7 separate regions of the Homo sapiens genome follow, and all the other regions are reported to be linked to region 3. Evidence: microRNA targets listed by miRTarBase, many of them from high-throughput screens and not tested one by one. Region 3 holds a microRNA gene; each other region holds the end of a gene's coding sequence.
What was found. The annotated mature microRNA hsa-miR-100-5p reads AACCCGUAGAUCCGAACUUGUG and lies in region 3 at 1,592-1,613, shown strand. An mRNA with a match to its seed (bases 2 to 7 or 8) in the 3' UTR can be bound and repressed. Matches are read on the target gene's strand: a 7mer-m8 pairs with bases 2 to 8, a 7mer-A1 pairs with bases 2 to 7 and ends in A, and an 8mer does both.

Region 1: miRTarBase lists SNX4 as a target of hsa-miR-100-5p. The part of its 3' UTR that is shown has no 7-base or 8-base seed match.
Region 2: the mRNA of VPS45 is a reported target of hsa-miR-100-5p. The part of its 3' UTR that is shown has no 7-base or 8-base seed match.
Region 4: miRTarBase lists RCN2 as a target of hsa-miR-100-5p. The part of its 3' UTR that is shown has no 7-base or 8-base seed match.
Region 5: miRTarBase lists SLC17A8 as a target of hsa-miR-100-5p. The part of its 3' UTR that is shown has no 7-base or 8-base seed match.
Region 6: miRTarBase lists PSMA5 as a target of hsa-miR-100-5p. The part of its 3' UTR that is shown has no 7-base or 8-base seed match.
Region 7: the mRNA of PAFAH1B1 is a reported target of hsa-miR-100-5p. The part of its 3' UTR that is shown has no 7-base or 8-base seed match.

What each region holds. Positions count from the first base shown.
Region 1 is chr3:125,445,005-125,448,089 of GRCh38, reverse strand. SNX4 (sorting nexin 4) reads left to right here. Exons shown (of 14, transcript NM_003794.4): 14 at 264-1,440. The coding sequence ends at 311. It overlaps LOC124906351 (small nucleolar RNA U13), which reads right to left and starts at 2,029; the gene lies at 1,927-2,029.
Region 2 is chr1:150,144,320-150,147,404 of GRCh38, reverse strand. It overlaps VPS45 (vacuolar protein sorting 45 homolog), which reads right to left. Exons shown (of 15, transcript NM_007259.5): 15 at 2,076-2,696. The coding sequence ends at 2,609. Among named protein-coding and RNA genes, the nearest start is that of PLEKHO1, 4.1 kb to the left of the region's middle.
Region 3 is chr11:122,150,803-122,153,887 of GRCh38, reverse strand. It overlaps MIR100 (microRNA 100), which reads left to right and starts at 1,580; the gene lies at 1,580-1,659. The region is part of intron 4 of MIR100HG (mir-100-let-7a-2-mir-125b-1 cluster host gene); the gene reads left to right. MIR10526 (microRNA 10526) reads left to right here and starts at 1,732; the gene lies at 1,732-1,785.
Region 4 is chr15:76,948,832-76,951,916 of GRCh38, forward strand. It overlaps RCN2 (reticulocalbin 2), which reads left to right. Exons shown (of 7, transcript NM_002902.3): 7 at 239-3,085. The coding sequence ends at 391. Among named protein-coding and RNA genes, the nearest start is that of RCN2, 19 kb to the left of the region's middle.
Region 5 is chr12:100,419,616-100,422,700 of GRCh38, reverse strand. It overlaps SLC17A8 (solute carrier family 17 member 8), which reads right to left. Exons shown (of 12, transcript NM_139319.3): 12 at 646-2,886. The coding sequence ends at 2,542. Among named protein-coding and RNA genes, the nearest start is that of NR1H4, 53 kb to the left of the region's middle.
Region 6 is chr1:109,399,237-109,402,321 of GRCh38, reverse strand. PSMA5 (proteasome 20S subunit alpha 5) reads left to right here. Exons shown (of 9, transcript NM_002790.4): 9 at 232-3,085. The coding sequence ends at 309. Among named protein-coding and RNA genes, the nearest start is that of SORT1, 2.9 kb to the right of the region's middle.
Region 7 is chr17:2,681,228-2,684,312 of GRCh38, forward strand. PAFAH1B1 (platelet activating factor acetylhydrolase 1b regulatory subunit 1) reads left to right here. Exons shown (of 11, transcript NM_000430.4): 11 at 502-3,085. The coding sequence ends at 575. It also overlaps the pseudogene RN7SL608P. Among named protein-coding and RNA genes, the nearest start is that of MIR6776, 10 kb to the right of the region's middle.

The DNA of each region.
Region 1 (3,085 bases), not on the chromosome of region 3:
ATATGAAATGAATTAACTCAGTTTTCCAACAAGTTGTAGGAGTTCTTTTTCCATTTTGAAGATAAGTTCGTATTAGAGATTCTGTTTCTCTTTTCAGAAGCATTAGACATTTGCTTATATTAGCCACTTCCCAAAATAGTGTCATATTTTCTCGACTTCTTAATTATTCCAAAAAGCAAAACTTAGTGTACCACTAAGCCAAGTACTTGGGTTTTCAGATTCCTTCCAAACTCACATTTTAAAGTTTTTATTTTTATTTTTAGGGAATTCAAGTTTGGACCAATGCTAAGGAATGCTTTAGCAAGATGTAATCCTGTGAATTGAATTTCTCTTCAATCAAAGTGCCCCAAAACAGAAGCACAAGTAAATAAAAGAAATTTAAGTCACTACCTAGTATACATAAACATATACAATAAGTTAAATAAATTCAGCTTTCTTTAACTTAATTGTGGTCGTGTTAATGTAGCACAAAAAATATATTTTAATGAAGATTAAATATTATAATTTGAGGTTTTGGGGACTGGTGCTGATTCCAAAAAGTTAATTTAATAATATATACCAACAGATTGTTTGTCACGCTTCTGAACCAATGACTGAATGTCAAGATGTTCGTTAATTTCTAGATGTTTGTTTCAAGACCAGCTGTTTCAGATCTATTAATGTAGGGAATTTTTCCCTAAGATTGAATTCCTATATTTACTTGGTAAGATCCACTAATCTGTTATAGGGAGTTGTTTTCTCTTGCCTTATAGTTGAGCTATTTGGTTTGACAAAGCTCAGCAGAAACTTGATGTGAAAAATCTACGATTTTCTTCTACATTCATTGATGCCCCTTGTAATGTTTGCATACACTAGAAAATGCCTTCAATTTGTGTTTTACCAGAATTTTGATACTGGTCAGAAATTTTATACTGCCAACAAAGAAGACTCAACTTCTCAGATCTATAATGGGATACATTGTCATCCTCTAGCAACTCCTATATAGAAAGTTTTAACTGAATATGTTACATATAAGAATTAAATTCTTCTCAAATAATTCTTAACCTCAGTAATGAGCCTAAATTTACTCTGCTTGGCTCTCTACACATGGCATTTCAGGGTATAAGATGTAGCATTTCAATGTGTAAGATATATGTACTAAACATATGTGTTGCTATCTTCATCATTAACATCCTTCTTTTCTATTGCTTGGCTGTAATTTTTGTAAAGATAAATTATATTGTTTTTTTGTATGTGTGTTTGTAGTATATGTTCAGAAGGCAAGCATCTTCATTTTGCTAGCTTTGCAGAATCTTAAAATGTGTACTCGTTATTTCTAATGATGTAAAAAAAAATCCCTAGTCCTGTTTAGCATTTGACTTTTTTATATGTTTTAAATGTTGCTGGATTTTTGTGCTGTTTGCCAAACTTATACAATAAATAAATGAAATATTGTGCTGATTTTCAGATGATTTTTGTTAATTTAACAAAGTGATCCATACATATTAATATCTGATGCTCTGTAAGAAAATGATATCTGTCATACTATGTTTTAAAGTGATTAATGCCACATGTTCTCACTTATCAGTGAGAGCTAAACATTGAGTACACATGAACGCAAAGATGGGAACAATAGACACCAGGGCCTCCTTGAAGGGGCAGATTCGGAGGAAGGCGAGGGTCGAAAAACTAGCTATTGGTTACTATGCTCACTCCCTGGGTGATAAAATCATTTGTACACGAATCCCCAGCAACACACAATTTACCCATGTAGCAAACCTACACAGGTATCCCCTGAACCTAAAACAAAAGTTGAGGAAAGAAAAAAAAATAAAGTTATTAATGGTATAAATTTGTCATCTACCAAAATATTGGTTTTTAAAAATATAAGATGCTGAAATAAGACATGATTTTTAAAATTTTACTTTTTTTTTTTTTTTTTTTTACTGTCAGATGGGTAATGGTTGAAGTTGTAACAAGGTTTGAGGGAGGCACATCTCACACGTGGGTGTGAATACCCAATCATCATGCTTATGAACCACAAAAGGATCATGAGTTTTTTTTTTGTTTTTGTTTGTTTTACTTTAAAAAAAAAAAAAGAGACAGGGTCTGATGTTGCCCAGGCTGGTCTGAACTTCTGAGCTCAAGGAATCCTCCCGCTTCAGCCTCTCAAAGTGCTGGGATTACAGGCGTGAGCCACCCTGACCCGGCCTGTTTTGTTTTGAGACAGGGTCTCTGTCGCCCAGGCTGGAGTATGGTGGCACAATTATGGCTCACTGCAGCCTCAACCTCTGGGGGCTCAAGTGATCCTCCCACCTTAGCCTCCCAAGTAGTTGGGACTACATAGGTACACCACCATGCCTGGCTAATTTTTTTATTTTATTCTTGTAAAGATGAAGTCTCACTGTGTTGCCCAGGCTGGTCTCAAACTCCTGGGCTCAAGCGATCCTACCCCGTTGGCTCCCAAAGTGCTGAGATATAGGCAGGAGCCCCTGTACCCGGCCATGTCAGGGTTTTATAAAAGATAAAATTGGTAGAAGCAAAAGTCATCTGTGTGGATACACATTTTATTCCACTGAATTGTATCATCTCTTGACAGATAAAATACCTTTCCCCTTGGCATTTAAAGATCAAAAGCCTTTTCCCCCAAACTAGCTTTGGACTCGATGTAAAATGTTAGACTTTTTTCTACTAGCTGACTTAATTTGAGAAGGCCATTATTAACTATGTTTCAAAAATGATTTAAGTTCCATGGCTCATGCCTGTAATCCCAGCACTTTGAAAGGCTGAGGTGGTTCGACTGCTTGAGCCCAGTTCAAGACCAGCCTGGGCAACATGGCGAAAACCCATCTCTACAAAAAATACAAAAATTAGTCGAGTGTGGTGGTGCACACCTATGTAATCCCTACCCAGCTACTCAGAAGGCTTAGGTAGGAGCATCACTTGAACCTGGGAGCTTGAGGGTACAGTGAGTCATAATCACACCACTGCACTCCAGCCCAGGCAACATAGTGAGATCCTGTCTCAAACCAGCCCAGGCGACATAGTGAGATCCTGTCTCAAAAATAAATAAATAAAAAGATTTAAGAAAACTCTAGACTGGGTG
Region 2 (3,085 bases), not on the chromosome of region 3:
ACAGCAGATGCATGTGGGCTGCAGAACCTTCCCTGCCTGTCTGCTCTCTTAAGATGTTACATAAATCTCTGGTGTCCTCTCTTTCTCTCTGCCCTGCTCCATCCTGTGATCCTGCCCCTACTTTCGTTCACCTGTTCTCCCTTTGTCCTGTCACTCACCCCTTTCCACTTCCCCTGGCCTATTCTTGAAGCTGGTTTGTCTCACCAGGTGAACCTCATGGCACCTGAATTGGGATGTAGGTGGGACTGTTTTCCAAAGACCAATGCTAAAGTGAGAAATCTGAGAACGTATGTGTTCCTATACACATTTTTATAGCGCTGTCTCCTCAGCGCTCCTCAGTGAGCTTGACACTACACGCACATAAACCACAGAAATCACTCTCAGCCAGTTTCTGTCTGTGGTGAAGATAAGACACTGGGAGGACCTCATGATGGGGGTACCTCTCTAACAACATCTGAGGATAAGACGCGACTGCTAGTAGCTGTATTCTATAACGGAATATTTTATAACTTCACTAAAGGGAGAAAGAAGGGAACTATTAGAGATAAAAACTTGTCAACTGCTGCTTGCAAGTTTACTGGACAGAAACTGTTATTCAAACACAGTTGTCTAAAAACAAATATCCTTGGCTTTTGTGGAGTAAATGGAACACAGAGGTTTTGACCAGGGCATTTCCACCTATGGGGGAGAGGATTATTAAAAGCATACAAGACCTTAATTAAAGTGATGTTTTTAAAGGGCACAAAAATAAAGGGCCAGTACAAATGGAATCAGCTCTGTAAATCTTACACAAAAATACGTGTCTTTGATTCTTAATAAAGAAATGCCAACTTCTGACATCAAACACCCTGATGGTAGGGCTCATTTCTTAGACTTCTTGATATTGTCAGTTGAGTAGGCACAATGGAAGCAGATGAATAATGAGGAAAATGACATAAGGAAGGTCTCTGTTTTTGCTCTTTTTATTCCACAGCGTTATCTTGCTGATAGGAAGAGAAGCACAGATATTCCTGCTTGGAGGAGGGAGTTTTTCATATTTTAAAAGGCTATATAACTTGTAAAATGCTGCATTTAAAATACTCCATCCCCAAGTGCAGGCTGTCTTAAATACTTATAAAAAATGAAGAAGAAAAAATTACCCAAAGGGACCCACAAAAGCAAAAAAAAAAAAAAAAGAACTTGGATTTTACTTCATGAGTGCGTGTAAAGAAACAACAGCTGAGGCCGAGTGCAGTGGCTCACGCCTGTAATCCCAACACTTTGGGAAGCAGAGGCGGGTGGATCACGAGGTCAGGAGTTCAAGACCATCCTGGCCAAGATGGTGAAACCCCATCTCTACTAAAAATAAAAAATAATAAAAAAAAAGAAACAACAGCTGAGAGCTGGGACGAGTGGAAAAAAGAGAGGGACAGAATGACCTTTCAGCTTTTCCCTCTATTTTTTGAACTGCTTATTAGTGCAATGATTAGATGTGCAATGATTAAAATGATTAGTCCAATCATTTTACATGTGACTCTGTAACCCCAACTTAGAGACAGAAATTAATCTTATTTACTATTAGCCAAATTTTATTAAATGATTACCGTATACCAGTGTTTTAAGCACTTTTCATGTATCATCTCATCTCATTTAATTCTTCTAATCCTATGAGGAAGGTTCTATTTTATAGATGAGAAAGCTGAGCCACAAAGAGGCTAAATAATATTCCCAAAGCCATATAAATATGACATAGGTTTGACCCTTACTGTCTGATGCTAGAGAATATTTGTCAACATACAAGTTTACACACACACACACACACACACACACACACAAAACAGGGAGGGATTGTGCTTTGGTATTTTTGCTATGATGATTTGAGGATGCCTTAATTTCCTGGCAATAATGATACTGTCACTTTCTCCTGTTTTCAAGAGAGGTGAAATTGACACTAGAATTTATTATTTGCCTTGACATACTTTAAATATCCTTCAGGTAGAAGTAATGCCTTCATTATGTTTGGTGTGAAACCAGCTCATGTCCCACCTCATAAATTCCCATAAATTAGCCTCAAAGAAATAAAACTAAATCACTCATATCCTTTCACAAAATGGATTTTTATTGTGGTCATACATGGTTTCTCAGTGCCACAGAAAATTGCTATGTAGGGACAAAAAATTTTTGGATGGCTCTGTAAAGAAACATGGTAGGTTTTCAGAAATGAGTTGTGCAGGAATGTGGTTAATGAAAAGCAGAAAGGGTTAAGGGAAGAGAAAGGAAGCCAAGGAGTGTGGTATGTACATCAAATGATTACTTTTTAAGCCCCTCTAGGCTCTGATAACCCTTTCCCCAAGTCAGATCCCAACAAAATTCATCAGTAACTGAAGTGATTGTGCTAACAGATACATAAAGACTACCGGAGAAAAGTGGGTTGAGATGGGCTCAGACTTATTGTTAGGACAACTCTGGGAGTCTTGTGTCTGTGCCAACCACGTATCCGTGGGCTACCTGGAGATGAGTTCTAACAACCAGCACAGAACCCAAAGCTGCTCTCCAACACCTTTGTTTAGTAGGGAAAACCTGTAGTGGGGACAAGAGAGGAAGCTGTGCCCTTCCCCCAACCACCGTTTCATCTTCTGCTCGCTGACCTTGATGTGACTTGAGAGCTCTCCTTGCTTCGGCTGTGCAGTCCAGAAGCCAGAACTTCCTCTAGGAAACTGATAAGTAGTTTGAGGTTACTTGAAGGAAAAAACAAAAGCATCTCCAAAAATAGAATGTCTTGCTCTGGACATCTAACCAGATGAAAATATATCATGAATAGTAGGCAGGAGGTACTGGTCTGATATTTGGGTATAGAATGGAAGCATCAGTTGAGCACTACAACATCCATACTGCAAGGACAGTCCTTCTGTGCTCTTCCCCAGGGTCTTCATTTTTTTTTTAGAATTAAATTTGTAAGATCTATTAAGACTAACATTTCAAGTTTGAAGTTTCTATTTAGGATCCCAGAATTTTTAAGGGCAAGGCCACTATATTAACTCAGTACCATGTTACATCAGCACCTGTTATCTGTACTCTTGAAACTGTCTCAGAGCTTGTATGTTGT
Region 3 (3,085 bases):
CAGTTTCTGTTCATCGTACTGTTGGTTTCCTGTTCTCTTTATTTAACTTTTTAGGTTGCATACACGAGGGCCTGCTCTTTTCTCTGAATAATTCCTCAATTCAGCTCTGTCTTTTTTTGTTCCCCTTGGTAGGGCTTCAGTTCATCTCCCAGATTCTTTTTTTTTTTTTTTTTTTTTTTTTTTGAGACAAAATCTCACTCTGTTGCCTAGGCTGGAGTGCAGTGGCACAATCTCGGCTCATTGCAACCTCTGCCTCCCAGGCTCAAGCAACTCTCATGCCTCAGCCTCCAGAGTAGCTGGGATTACAGGCGCACGCCACCATGCCCAGCTAATTTTTTTGTATTTTTAGTAGAGACAGGGTTTCACCCTGTTGGCCAGGCTGGTCTTGAACTCCTGACCTCAAGTGATCTGCCAGCCTTGGGCTCCCAAAGTGCTGGGATTACACACATGAGCCACCAGTGCCTGGCCCCAGATTCTTGAGAAAGGAGTGAATGTCCATTTTTTGAGGCAAATGAGATAATTATTTTGAGAGCCAGGATCCATAATTATAGCTAACAAAAGTTAAAAAGGTCTCTTTTTAGGTCCTGTAAAGGGATGGAGTCATGTGTGTTTCCCAGCATCTAGGACAGGGAGTTATTTAGCTGTATAATATATGTCCCTGAAGTGCTTATGATTATGCCTGTCTTCAATACAATTCACAAAAGGCGTCGTTAATGAAAGTCCATTGTCTTGGATGTTCCCTTCTTATATGTAGAACATTGGCTTTGCAGAAAAAAAATGTTATGTTGACAAATGCAATCATTTTATAAGAAGGTCTCTGAAACAGATTCATCCCTGTTTTTTCAAACAGTATTGCGGGGGGCGGGGGGTGCGGGGGGAAGGAGGAACAACTATGTAATTTCTTCTATGGTTCAAATTTTACAGAGTACACCCAAACTTGCTCATTGTTGGTGTTTGAATCAATAATAAGTGTGGGGATGGGATGGGGGTGGGAACAAAAATGCAAACTTTTCCCGAAGATGGATCTTAATATACCTGAAAATCTACTCTAGAGTGGTTTTCAAAAAAAAAAAAAATATACCTATAAATCCGTTGGTAGTACTTGCTAAGTTTATTCTAGTTGTTTTCCAGAATGCAAATAGGAAAATGAAAATTTCACCATCATTTTTAATGTAATGACAGGTATTTAAAGGAATGGACTTGCATTTGGGCTCTCATGTGTTCTTTCTCTCTGCCTACAATTTAAAGAATTTTCTTTATTCTGCTGGTTTGCCATTTTGGTATCACTTTGCCCAGATTATGTGTTCAGCAGTGAATAAATGAGTCTTCCATATATAAACAGTAAAATGATGAGGTTTACCTAAAGTCCACTGGATTTGTGGAAAAAGTGGAAACCAAGGGAAGCACGTTGGGGAGAACATAGAAGATATTGCTTAACTTTTGCTTTTGTGAGAGTGGGACGAAGTCCTTTCCATTTATGGCATAAAACAATTGAATGGTAGACTCTTTTATTGGATTAATGGTTGTAATATTTTATTTTCAGACATGTCACAGCCCCAAAAGAGAGAAGATATTGAGGCCTGTTGCCACAAACCCGTAGATCCGAACTTGTGGTATTAGTCCGCACAAGCTTGTATCTATAGGTATGTGTCTGTTAGGCAATCTCACGGACCTGGGGCTTTGCTTATATGCCATTCAATATCCCTTCGAGTTATTTCATTCTCCTTCTCTTCCCCTTAGTTTCCTTTAAGAGTGATAAAAATGGAAAAGGGGGCTGAGGTGGAGGAAGGAGACCTTTTGTCCTGAAATGAATGAGGTTCTTCAATGATGAATTAATAGGCTGGCCCTCAATTCCCATATCTCTTGTAACTGGTCTCTGCTGTCAAATTAGAAGGCTGAGCTTACAGGTGAGGCAGCAAGAATTTGAGTGATTGGAACAACTTACTGTTGAGTGATGAGTAAAGAGATAAACAAGGGTTTGTTTTGTTTTCTGTAAGCCTAATTGTTTTCAAAGTTATTATGATATTTTCTGGAAAGTGGCAGATGTGTTTACAGGACCAATTTCACCGTGATTTGGGTTTTTGGGTTTTCCTTTGTTGCAATTCTTCCTCCCCCAATTTCCCCAATAATTTTGCTTCTGAAGATAAGGACTGATAAATCAGAATGGATGTGTTTAACTGCCTAACTATTTATACTTCTATTTATATCCAGCAGTGTAAGAAGGACTTCTTATAAAAAAGAGATCGCCTGTTTAGGTCCAAATTCATATTTGGCCAGAGCTGTTTTATAAGTCTTTATCCTGTTTAAAACGCTGGAATGAAAATAATTTTATCCTCTTGCCTCTTAAATGTCACCATTGTGCCAGGATTGAAAAGCTAAACTGACCACAGATCAAAGCAAAACTGGCTATATTTGTTTCATTCCAACAATGTGAGCTGAGGAGTCTGTAAACAGAACTAGAACCCAGGGTGAAAAGTTGATCAGATTTGGATGACTCTAAAACTTTTGCATGCCCTTTTGGTAAAACATAGTGCCAGAAGTTCCCTTAAGATGTGTGTGTGTGTGTGTGTGTGTGTGTGTGTGTGTGTGTGTGTCCTCTTCTAACAAAAAAAGTCAACATGAAGTAGTTGGTGGGTTAACATTAGAGAAAAGTTTGAAATTCAAGTGGATAAATTCTGTCTCCTCTTAAGACCTACTCAGGAATAACTAAAACTCTTTCTTTTATCCAGTATATAGAAATGAGATTTTGCATTTCCGAATTAGGACAGCCTAGATACAGATGACATATGTATAAAGGGTAGAATTTGGAATTCTGTAATTGCTAGACCAAGACGACATTGTTTCCATGCATTTCCTTTGCATAGCACTGAGGAGGGTTGTCTATGGTGCTCAACCCCCTGCTTGCCAAGAAAGCATTGCTTTATTATAGAATGATGGCATATTACAACCCAAAGTGAAAGACTGTCCTCATTGGTGTGTGTTGTATAAATTGTTTGCCTAAGGCCTTTATCTACACAAAAAGCAAACAATTTGCTTGGTTAGTTTTATATGCCTCTTTGAAGTGGTTAACTTGGAATGAATAAAC
Region 4 (3,085 bases), not on the chromosome of region 3:
TTGATATATCCTGGATTGGATTTGAGTGGAGAGAGACAGAACCCAGCAGAAATGAAGAAAGGAGATAATGGGAAAAGCAGTAGACGGACCTGGTTACAACGTGTAACATTTTTAGATACTTAAACAATAATGAGTACTTGTACACCTGGATGATTTTGACAAGTCAAATCACATTAAATTGTGAACATCTTGCTGAAAATACTTATTACACTTGACACTTTTTTGTTTTATTTTGAAGGCGCTTCATCTAATTGATGAAATGGATTTGAATGGTGACAAAAAGCTCTCTGAAGAAGAGATTCTGGAAAACCCGGACTTGTTTCTCACCAGTGAAGCCACAGATTATGGCAGACAGCTCCATGATGACTATTTCTATCATGATGAGCTTTAATCTCTGAGCCTGTCTCAGTAGAGTACTGGCTCCTTTTATAATTTGTTACCAGCTTTACTTTTGTGATAAAATATTGATGTTGTATTTTACACTCTTAAGTCTTAACCACAGTCAGAATTATCTTAATGTAGATTATAATTTTGGTCTTTTAGGAAAAAAAAACAAAAATCTGATATTTATTTCAAAATGTATTGAAGCAACAAAATATTAATATTGTGCCATATGACAACAAAGTCTTTCCTAAATACTCCATCTGTTTAGTACTGTATTGTGGAATATTTGAGTTCTATTTCCATACTTGAAAACATGGAGGATTTTAGAGATGCCTGAACAATATTATTTAAGTAGTATGTGACCGAGCTATAAATTTTTGTTTTTGTTCTAAGTAGATTTAATTTGGGAACTGACAGGACAATGTTTTTAGGTTTAGCATTTTGTTTAAAAACCTTTAAAGAAACCTTTAGAAGGACTTAGACCTCACATATTAATGTTGAGAAGTTCTGCTTAATTTTAAAATGGTTTCTATAAAGGGTTTTATTGTATGAAATAGAACTTTATATTTTTGCATATGTATAGATAGTAATTATATTTAATGTATAACTATAGCATTATGGTGAGTGGAATTTGACATTGTCCAAACCTTTTTCATTTTTGAGTGATTAAAAATGAAATGTCCTTTGTATATGTTTGTTTGCTTTTCTTTAACTTTCAGATAAATATTGAATTTAGCATAGGTTTTGTGGTATTGTACATTATCTTGCCTCATCCATTCCTTTATGTGGATAGTTCCCAAAACTGTCAAATTATTCTTGCTGCATTTTCTTATTTTTTTTTTAAATAAGAGAATCATGTTATAATATAATTGAATGTGCACCTGACACATTTTAATAATTGGTGTTGTAGCAAATGTGGTTTTGCTCTTTGGGGCTATAAATAATCTTGAGTAACGCAGGTTGGAATTACCAATAGAGCTGGTCAGTTATCAACAGTAGAGCTCAGTATCAATTTTACTGAAATTAAAATCATACTTGATAAGCATGATAATCAATTTTAACCTAATTCAGCAGGTCAACTTATTTAACTTTGGTGGAGGTGGGATAGGGAAAAGTGAAGGGAGGAATTAATTTTTTTCTAGTTCTGATGTACAGAGATTGTTTTTCATTCTTTTTTTTTTTTTTTTTTTTGTGACAGAGTCTTGCTCTGTGGCCCAGGCTGGAGTGCAGGGGCACTATCTCGGCTCACTGCAAGCTCTGCCTCCTGGGTTCACGCCATTCTCCTGCCTCAGCCTCCCGAGTAGCTGGGACTACAGGCGCCTGCCACCACACCCGGCTAATTTTTTTGTATTTTTAGTAGAGACCGGGTTTCACCGTGTTAGCCAGGATGGTTTCGATCTCCTGACCTCATGATCAGCCCACCTCGGCCTCCCAAGGTGCTGGAATTACAGGCGTGAGCCAACGCGCACGGCCTCTAGTTTTTCATTCTTTAAATCACTTTTATTTGTGGGTGAAGAGGTCAGCTATGCATTCTCTTAATCACTTTCCAGCCTAAAGTTGTCTCATATACAGCACACTGGGGGCTCAACAAGTACCTATGACTATTTGAGAAGACATGAAACTCTTCTCTGATAGAATCGACTGCACCTATATACCTCTCTACTGCCGCATCTTTGCTGATGTGAGGTGTGCTTGCAAATTGTAAGCTTCCACACCTTAATGACTGCTTGCTTGGGTATCTACATGGTTTTCATTTTAACCTACACTATATGTCTGGCTATAGCAGTTTTAGAATTACAGATTTACCACTATCACTCATCTGTCATTTGTCAGACTCACTGAAGCTGGCATATTTGAAATCACCAGTTTGACTAGTTAACTATTTGTTTTTCTCTCTAGCTTCTCCAAAATCTATGCCAGAATAGATCATCAGATATGGATTATATTTCAATCCTTTGCAGAAATGCAATGTCTGTACTACTTTCCTTCCTAGCATAAAGAAAACTACACTTCCCAGCCCTCTTGTAGGTAGGCGATGGCTAGTTCTGACCAGTTAAACATGGGTGGAAGTAGTGTGTGTCACTATCAGACTATCTCATGACAAACCCTTTTCCTCTGCCACAGCACTGTGCAGGAGGCCTCAGCTGAAATGGTGCAGCCACAAGATGAAAGTGGCTTTGATCTTGAGTCTGTGTAGGTCAGCTGGATCCACAGTGGGCTTTGTATGATCAAAAAATAAGCTTTTAATTATGTTAAGCCACTGAGATTTGGTTGTGCTTTTTTGTTTTTAACCACAGCAGAGCCCATCCTGCTGTGACTGAGTGAAGATTTCACATTTAACAATAGGCTTTTAATAAGCATGCAGAGAAAAAGAATCATCTGCTTGAACAGAGATGCTATATCTACTGCTGAGTCAAAATAGAAAATTTTAAGGCTTTTTTTAGATTTGAATTTTAAATAAGACTTTTAAAATAAAGCTTTTATTTTGGTTTTAATATAATTAGGATAATTTGAATTTATCCTTGAGCATGAGAGTAAAAATAGTTTGAGACTTTCTGAATCATTGGCTGATTCTGCCTGAAGGACTTAATGACTTCCATTATTTGAGTTCAGGTACAACTTCAAAGGGGAAAATTGAATGGGATGTGCACATGTTGGCTCATATGTAGTTCTGATTGGGCCAATTTGCAGGACAGAAAAT
Region 5 (3,085 bases), not on the chromosome of region 3:
GAAATAGAGAAAGAAAAACAGATTTATTGGGGTTGGGAGGAGGCAGAGTAAAATAGAAATACACATAATAGGTTCCAATTTTTACCTGTTGAATTTAACATCCAGACAGGGATAACAAATGGGCCATTATTTCTTTAATACTTACTTTTCTTGTCATATTAAGGAATTTCCAAAACTTTGATTGTTGGAAAGGATCATCAGATCTTTCTTGTCTCAAGAACCCTGCACCTACAGGCCTCCTTCCCTTCCTGCTAGAATCCATGGTTTGCATCCATGAATTGACCTACAAATGGACATTCGCAGCAAAATGTACAATGACTTGCAAATGGCATCTGTCTGGTGTTAAAATGTAATTATTTATCCATTGCTACCTATGCAGAGAAAAACCCATCACAACAAAATAATGTATTTTTTAGTTTTTAACACCTTGATCCATGACTTCATTTAAAAAAAAATACATATTATAAAGGCAAGTTACAGGAAAAACGTGGGTTTTCTGCATATGATACCAACTTCAAATGATGCGATAAATACAACTTTGTGTCACAATATACAATACTACCTTAAGGATTATCGTGAGTTTTTAAAATACAATTATTTGACTTTACTAACACACACACAAAATAAAACACTGGCTATCATAAATTGCTAATTTTTTATTTTTTATTTTACTTAGAAAACAGCACAACTTTCACAATAAGTTCCAGGGATAATGGATAAAAATGACATAGCATGTTTTCTTTTCAACTGGAAAGTCCCCCAAAATGTTAAAAGATAATGATGATGACAGCTATTTACGTGGGCATTTTCTGCATGCTAGGAACTGTTTTATGGGGCTTGCATGGATTCACTCATTAAAGAGATTTAAAGATGTCTACTAACATAAATTGTATGCTAGTGACATAAAGAATATTATTTAATGAAGAATCGCAATTTTTCCCCAAGATTATTCCATTTATAAAATACACTACAACTCAGCTAGTATCACTGGGGACCAGAAATACATGTGGGAGAAATTAGAAAAAAAAAAAAAAAAAAAAAACACTTTACAATAATAAGCTACAAGTAAATCTATAATTTTTTCCGTATTATATTTTTCTTCTGAAAGTAGGAATAAAATGTTTAAAATCAATGAACAGGAAAATAATTTTATTTTCAAATAACACTTTAGATGCCAATGTTAAAATTTTAAATATATCTAAAAGTATCCATGTAATTGCCTTATGCAATCAAAGGTGAATTTTTCAACAGTAACTGTAGGTCTAATTGCCCCAAATGTTTTCATTGTAGTATTTCTCTGTATAACTACTGCTATATTATTGTGATTTCCCTGAATATCATTCCAAATAGAGTCATCATGAATACTTTTGATACAAAATCATAATTTTATACAATCTGATGAAACTTCCTAATATAATCTCCAGCAGAAAAGGCTAAAGAGATACATTTTTTAAAAATAGAAAATTCTTTCAGAAGAACTTTACCTAAGAAAACACATGAACCTACTTCTTAAATTATTAAATGTCTTAAAAGTTTGTAAGTAGTTTGGGACATCATTTAGCTACATTCTTAATATTATGGAAAGTTGAAATTTAATAGCCAATCTCTTGTTTACTGCTTTCAGCTATTTTGACCATCAGATTTCTAAAAATTTGGCTCTCTTGCTTAGCTTTTCTTTAAAAACCTATTTGAATCTCTGATGTAGTCTTTGACCCTTATTACTTTAAAAACTATGGAGTCACAAAACCATTTGACTCTTCAGATAACATAGAACACTGAGGGTCTTTGAATCTAGCCTCTCACACATTTGAATCCCCTCTGCCTCATCAACCCAAATGTTTCCCTTCCCCAACACCTGCTAAAGTGGTGAGTTACTCACAATTACTCCATTTTCAGTTTTCATTATTACAAATGTCTTCCCTACACTGAATGGAAATCTTCCCTAAAACTGCCACCTATTGAGAGCTTCAACAGTCTCAGCACTGACCCTGGCAGATGACCTTGGGCAAGTTCATTTCTTGTTGCTTTAGATGCCTTGGTTGTAAAATGGGGATAAGAAATGTGTGTCATAAAGGTGTGGAGATTAAATAAGAGTGTTTATAAAGCACCTGCCACAACGTGGGGTTTATTGGGAATATGAAGCCCTCCTCTGCATGGCTACCCTAGAGATGTGGTGGCAGCTACTACTACTGTTTACATTCCTTCTGGCCAAACATCCCAATTTCCTTCAATGTTTCTTTGAACAACATGGTATTGTCTCCTTTTTCTTCTAGTCATTCCTTTCTGAATAAGTTTAGCTCTTTGAGAGAAGGGTCAACTGTCAATTCAAAAAATATGTATTATCAACTATGTTATCAACTGAGCGCAGCTCCTTACCTATACATGTCATTGAAAGATAATATTTCTCTTTTCCCTGTTGCTGGTTAGATCTTCTCCCCTCCCAATATTTGGACCTCTGGCAAGCTGGGCTACAAGAAAGGCAATAGGTATGGATACTTTCTGTTTCTAAAGTAAGGAGAAGACAGAAGTGCCTCTCAGACATTAGGATATAGTTGAGAAGTTTCTCTCTTCATTCTGGTAGGATGTCAGCTCTTCCTCATCAAGGGTCGCTCCTCTCTGTCCTTTCCATTCCTTCTTCTGGACTTCACAATTCTGGGAGGTGGCTCCATAAGACATCTTCTTTTTGGGACTCGCAAAACTCTCATGGTTGAGTTCTATCTCCTCAGCTAATTCGTCCTGGTCAATGATTCCACATTTCTCCTCAGAGAGATTCTCTGGGTCAGCCCACTCCTGTTTCTCCCCAGAAGCAAAGACCCCATAGAAGATCACACCACTGTAATGCACCAGGGCAGCTATGAGGAACACATTCTGCCATTCTTCACGGGTCTAAATAAGGAAATAAAGTGCCAATTAATGTTTTAACTAAAACTAGAGATTACCAGTATGTCCTGGAGGCCTCCACTGTGAAAAAGCACCTGCCCATTTGGAAGGTGATGCTCTAGAGGCTCCTTGGGCGGGAGGACGTGTGTCAGAAGCACCATCCGGGATTCAAACCAAATTTAAAAGAAAAACTTAAAAAATGAAA
Region 6 (3,085 bases), not on the chromosome of region 3:
TATGATGTGGTGAGTTAACCTTAAAATAGAAAATTTGGTCAATAAGCATTTTTATTTTGGAGCCAGAGAGCTATTTTAGGGACCTGCTGCCTGGAAAGGATATCCTTGGGACAGCAGATCCCTTAGTTCCTAATGAATAGCTGCATCACCAACACAGCTTCTCCTGACCATGGTAGGGCCATCAGCAGGGTAACTCAGCCCAGCTTATTAACCCTTCTGTTTTCTTTCCAGCTAGCCACAGTGCAGCCTGGCCAGAATTTCCACATGTTCACAAAGGAAGAACTTGAAGAGGTTATCAAGGACATTTAAGGAATCCTGATCCTCAGAACTTCTCTGGGACAATTTCAGTTCTAATAATGTCCTTAAATTTTATTTCCAGCTCCTGTTCCTTGGAAAATCTCCATTGTATGTGCATTTTTTAAATGATGTCTGTACATAAAGGCAGTTCTGAAATAAAGAAAATTTTAAAATATTTGTTAATAGACTGTTCTCTTCTAATAGTCTTTTTTTTTTTTTTTTTTTTAAGAGATGAGGTCTCACTATATTGCCCAGGCTGGTTTCAAACTCCTGGGTTCAAGTGATCTTCCCGCCTCTGCCTCCTGAAGTGCTAGGATTATAGGCGAGAGCCACTGTGCCCAGCCATTGTAATACAGTCTTTTGTTTGAAATGCAAATGTTAGTGGGCCAAAAGGACAGTGTTATTAATATCCCTATTCTATGAAGATGTCTGTTCTAAAACTGTTTTAGTGATGCTCTATAACAGAATCAACTATATCCATTAATCCCATGGTGTTGATAAATGAACTAGTCCAGCTCTTCCCAGTGGTTAATAGATGTTAACAGCACTGTAAATCCATTTCGGCCCTATAATTTCTGGAGCAAACGTGTATTTTTGCTGCTTTTCTTATAAGGAGATGCTACTAATTGACTATCAGAAGAACATGTTTTGAGGTCCTCCTCAAAACATTGATGGGTTGGAATCAGCCATCAACAGTGTTGTACCAGTTCTTGGGTCTTGATAGACAATTTGGAAAGAGATTTCCTTGTTTACGAAGTGAAGGACTAAGAATTAAATTAATGACCTTGGCCTCACTGGCAATCAATTACAAATCTCTATATCAGTAAGAGAATTGTAAAATTCAGAAGCAGTTTACATTAGACTTTGGAATGAATGATGAACTTTCCCCATTAGAGCTGCCATCATATGATTGGTGGAGATTGTTTAAAGAATCATTCTATCTCAGCCTCAAAAATTACCACGGGAAGATGGTATCAGTATCACTACTTAACAGATGAAGAATCTAATGCTGTGTGCCCATGGACACACAAAATTAAGCTGTTGGGACTTGAACAGCTCAAATTTTCTTGTTTCAGATCACCAGCTCTTGAGTAATAGGGAAATCTGGAGATTTGAAAAGTACTTGCACTGTCCACAACATGGCTAATCCATATGTGGATGATGCAGAATTGATTTAATTCACTAACAGGGACCCCATAATTATTTGCTGGGCTCTGGGTATATTGATGTGTAGGAAGTTGTACTATATGTTAATAAATTATGACTATTTGGATAGGCTGAATTCATACTAAATCCATACTGTAGTTCAACAAAAAACAACATGTTTATATACATTTGGAAACTGCAATGATAGGAAACATTTGGAAGAAAGGGATTTTGCCCTAGAATAACACATAAGGAAAGCAGAGAATTAGAGTATATTGTTACTGAATGTTCCAGAGACTTCTAGTGATTTTAACACTTATTAAGTATAGCATGTTGATGGGGAGATTTGTTTCTCTAAAGATCACTTTGTTTTATTAAATCCTAATAGAAAATACCCTTGAAAATCCTATCTCATTTATTCCTGTAACAAATTTATTGAGCACCTACCTACTATATGCCAAGAAATGTATTAGCCATCAGGCAGAGAGCTGTTCAAATGGTAGATATGATCTGTGCTCCTGTGAAACTTCTAGTGGGGAGAGCCAAACAATAAACAATATTCCTTTTTAACTCTAGGTTAATGCAGAAATGGATAAAGCCCATGTTGCTTTTGGGAGAGGTGAGTTGTGTCTCTGAATCACATGCATTTCATAGGGGGAAAAATGCCCAAATACTAAGGAGTAGCTCTTAGCCTATGTCCGTTCGCCTCAGCTTAAGTTGTTTTCCCTCCCACTGGCTGGGCAGCATATTTGTGTTTTACCTGGTAAAACAGTAAATTTCGTACCTTCTATAATTGGCATTCTTCAAAGAGGTAGAACTTTGATTTTTTTGTAGAATATTAAAACAAGCTTTCTTAGGTTAAAGAAGTGATCTTACTACGAACAGCAATGGTTTCATGATGTGTAATTGCTTTATGTTATCTTTCTGCTATAGAATGTTTCCTGGAGAAAGGTACGGTTTTTAGTAATAAGATAAATTTACTTTAGTCCTGCAAATAAGGTGAAATCTTATGTCCAGTATCTCACAAAGGAGAACTGACAGTGCCACTTTTATATTTAATGTCAATCTCATTAGACAAAAATGAAATATAGTTCCTAGGGTTTCCAATTTAAAAAGTGAAATAATAAATATATTCACTCAAACATTTTCTCAGTGCCATATGCAAGTTACCATGTCCCAGAAGCTGATACAGTTTGAAGAAGGAAATATATAAGTACTGTAAGCCTGTGATAACTAAAAGCAACATACTAAAAAGTGAAGGTACAGATAATTGGAACAAATTTAATAGCGTTTAAAAGTGTATTTGGTAATTTCTCCAGGAGGTGGCACTGTTGAGTTGTTTTTTCTTTTCAGACAGTAAGACAATAGACCATTCATCTTTGTGTCACCCAAACAAAGAAATATTCCTTTATAACCCCCTTTCCTCCCCCCACCTAATCACATGCTACTGGAACTGACTGTCTTGTGATCTACTCCCATAGTTGGCATAGATTTAAAAATAATCTTTTTTAAATTAATCTGATAGTAGTTATGGAAAGGAACAAATTGTTCACCAATTTTCATCAGCTTTATCTTTTCAGTCCAGTAACTGAGAACTTAAAAAGACTATTCTAGTGATTTTACTATCCTGCTCAGATGGCAT
Region 7 (3,085 bases), not on the chromosome of region 3:
CCTGCCTTTGAAAAAAGAAGAAAAAGGATTTGAGCCCCATTTGGGATGGGCCAAAGAGGAACAGGCGTTTTTATTGAGATGTTAATACAGGATTTGATCATTGAGTCTCAACTTCCCTAACTGAATTGGCAAACTAGATACCTTCTTGGGTTATGGTATATTAGAGAAACACGAAAACTACTGGCATTTGGACTTTCTTAGAATTTTGTGGCTCATTAAAAATTGTATCTGGCTCAGTGTGATGGAGGGTTGGGACCGGGCAGGGTCTTGCTCTGTCACCCAGGCTGGAGTGCAGTGGTGCAGTCATGGCTCGCTGCAGCCTCGACTTCCCAGCTCAAACAGTTCTGCATCAGTCTCCCGAGTAGCTGGGACTACAGGCACACACTACCATGCCCGGCTAATTTTTTTTTTAATTTTGTATTTTGTAGAGAGGGGGTCTCACTATGTTTGTTGTCCAGGCTTACGTGTGAGTTTTAAATAAACCATTTCTTTTTCTTTCAGATTTCCACAAGACGGCACCCTATGTCGTCACTGGCAGCGTAGATCAAACAGTAAAAGTGTGGGAGTGCCGTTGATTGTGTCTCCTTCGGCCCCTCCTCCCTCTTTTCCTCTGGATGCACTCTGATGATACCATGGTTACCCCATTGAGCTCTGTTTAAATAAATATTGTCCTTTCATGTAAATTATTCTGGATGTAGATTGAGCTTATTAAATGTTACACACAAAGTATTCATGCATGGTGAATCCAAATTGTATACTGTAAATTTACATACGTTGTCTAGAAGTACCATAGGGTTTAAAAACCTGGGCTGGCATTGGTCACACCAGGCCTAAGAAGGCAGAAGTTGAATCAATTGAACTAGGGCACTAAACTGAATAGTTGACAGTGTCATTTTATGTTGGATTATTAATTCCTGTTTTTCTTTCTGCTATCTGTTGGTGCCTGACTTGATGGCCTCATTTGGGGAAAAGTGGTGGTTATTAGGGCTTTTTCTGAAATGTGTATCTATGTAACATCACTTAAGTGTGCTTAATAAATCTTCTGTAAGGATTTTAGATGATAAGGCTACAATTCAGAATCTTCTGAACCATCTATGTAATGAATGGGGATTATACATTGGAATTTTTGTCATGACACATTTGCCAAATCAGTAGGATATATTTGTTTTGGCAGCCTATCACGCAGAGGCTAGTGGTATATTTATGTAAGAAAATGACTGTAAATCTCAAGAAAAATCTCAGCAGCTAATAGCAACTCATTTATTTCATTTTGGTCTTAATGCTTTGTAAACAGGTCAAAAAATACTGTCATACTCTAAGCTTCTATTTTCCACACTGGACATACTTCTAGTTGTATTCTCCATACTATTAGACTGTGTAGTGATGTGACTTCCAAGTAGAATTTAATCTCCCCATTGAGTGTGTCATGGTACAAATCACTATTCGTTTTTGGTGTTTTTTAGGGATGTGCAATGTGCATTACATAATGACAGAAATACTGAGAAGGTTCTGTGTGCCCATTTGAAAGGAGTGGGAGGAATACAGCAGTTTGTTTTTCAACATGAATCTGATATTGATTTAAACTGTGTTTCACTTACAAGTTTTAAAAAAATGACAGGGTTTAATGGAGCGTGCATAAAAATGTACTGTTTTCACCTTTTGTTTATATGTAAATGTTTGTAAGTATATGGGCCTATCTGTAAGTGGATAAGTCTGTATGTGTGTATCATACACATCAACCTCCATGTCCTTAGTCCTGGGTTTTTGAAAAAGTGCTAAAACGGACAAGTAGAATAAATGTTGCTGTGGAATGCCATGCTTTAGAACAAACCCTTTTTGATCTTAATGCTTCTGAAAACTAGGTCTGACTCTGGGGATTTTTTTCCAGCCGAAGGAAAATCACTTCCGTTATGTCCCCCTCTAATTTAGCCGCTCGACATTTTACACAACCCGGATATGTTGTATATTTTGACCCAAAGTTACAGGTAGGTTTAAGAGAATTTTTAGCCATGACTTTTGGAGCACTATTCCATTGTCAGTTATTAATAAAGAATTCCATTGCTTAGCTAACCAACAGGTTTTTTTTGTTTCCAAGAGAGTTATTTGAAAAGTTAACAGAACAATGAGATAACAGTGACAGTTTAACAAAGATAAAATTCTGAACTGCGTTTTATTCATTTGTGTACTATGTGATTTTTTAAATGTCCCCTTTAGTATTTAATGGAAAATTGGTTCCTGCAAAAGACAAAGGGTGAGAGTTAGCGTCCTGTAGATACACACAGAGACTAGGCCGTATATTAACTAGAAGCAGCTTTATGTCTAGCTTGTGTCTTTTTGTTTGTTTGCTTGTTTGTTTTTAGATTCCTGAGAGATGTCTCTGGAAGGGAAAGTTTTGAGAACTAATGGCTATTTTTGAGGACAAAAATTACATCTTAAGCTAATTCCTTAAATACATACAGTAGGTGAATTTTCAGGACAATATTGCCTCACAACCCTGCTTACATTGAAAAGTCTTTTTCCCTTAGCTCTTCTGACTGGATTTTTCTACAAAAACTATGGAAAATATCTTTGTTCTTGTTTGCTGCTATTTTCTGTCCTATTTTGAGAAATATAAATACATAGAAATGGTGCATCTTAACATTTGTTTGTACATGTATAAATGTCTTGTATTTTAATTCATTTTTAGCATGAATTGTTTAAGGGTAAGCCACAACATCTAGAAATCACTCATAGATATTGAACAATAAAGGAGAATGGTACCGATGCAGGAGGAAGCAAGCGTGTCTTCCCCTGCAGCACACAGCGACTTGCGTTGACAAAGGAGGAGGAAACGATTACTCTGTAAACAAAGTTATCCTTACTTGGGAGATTGCCACAGCCTGCTGCTGAGTTGAGTTACCAGACATCCTCCATGTGAGAAGCAGCGAACATTGAATCTCAGGGATGGCCCACAACTGGGTCCACATGTAATGAGCCCTGTTTAATAACGAAGGGGTGGGGGAGAGCAGTCCGTCTACAACCTGGAATCAGATTTGCAAAATTTCCTGCACTGCTGTCTGACACTGTCCTGTTGATGCCCTTTCTG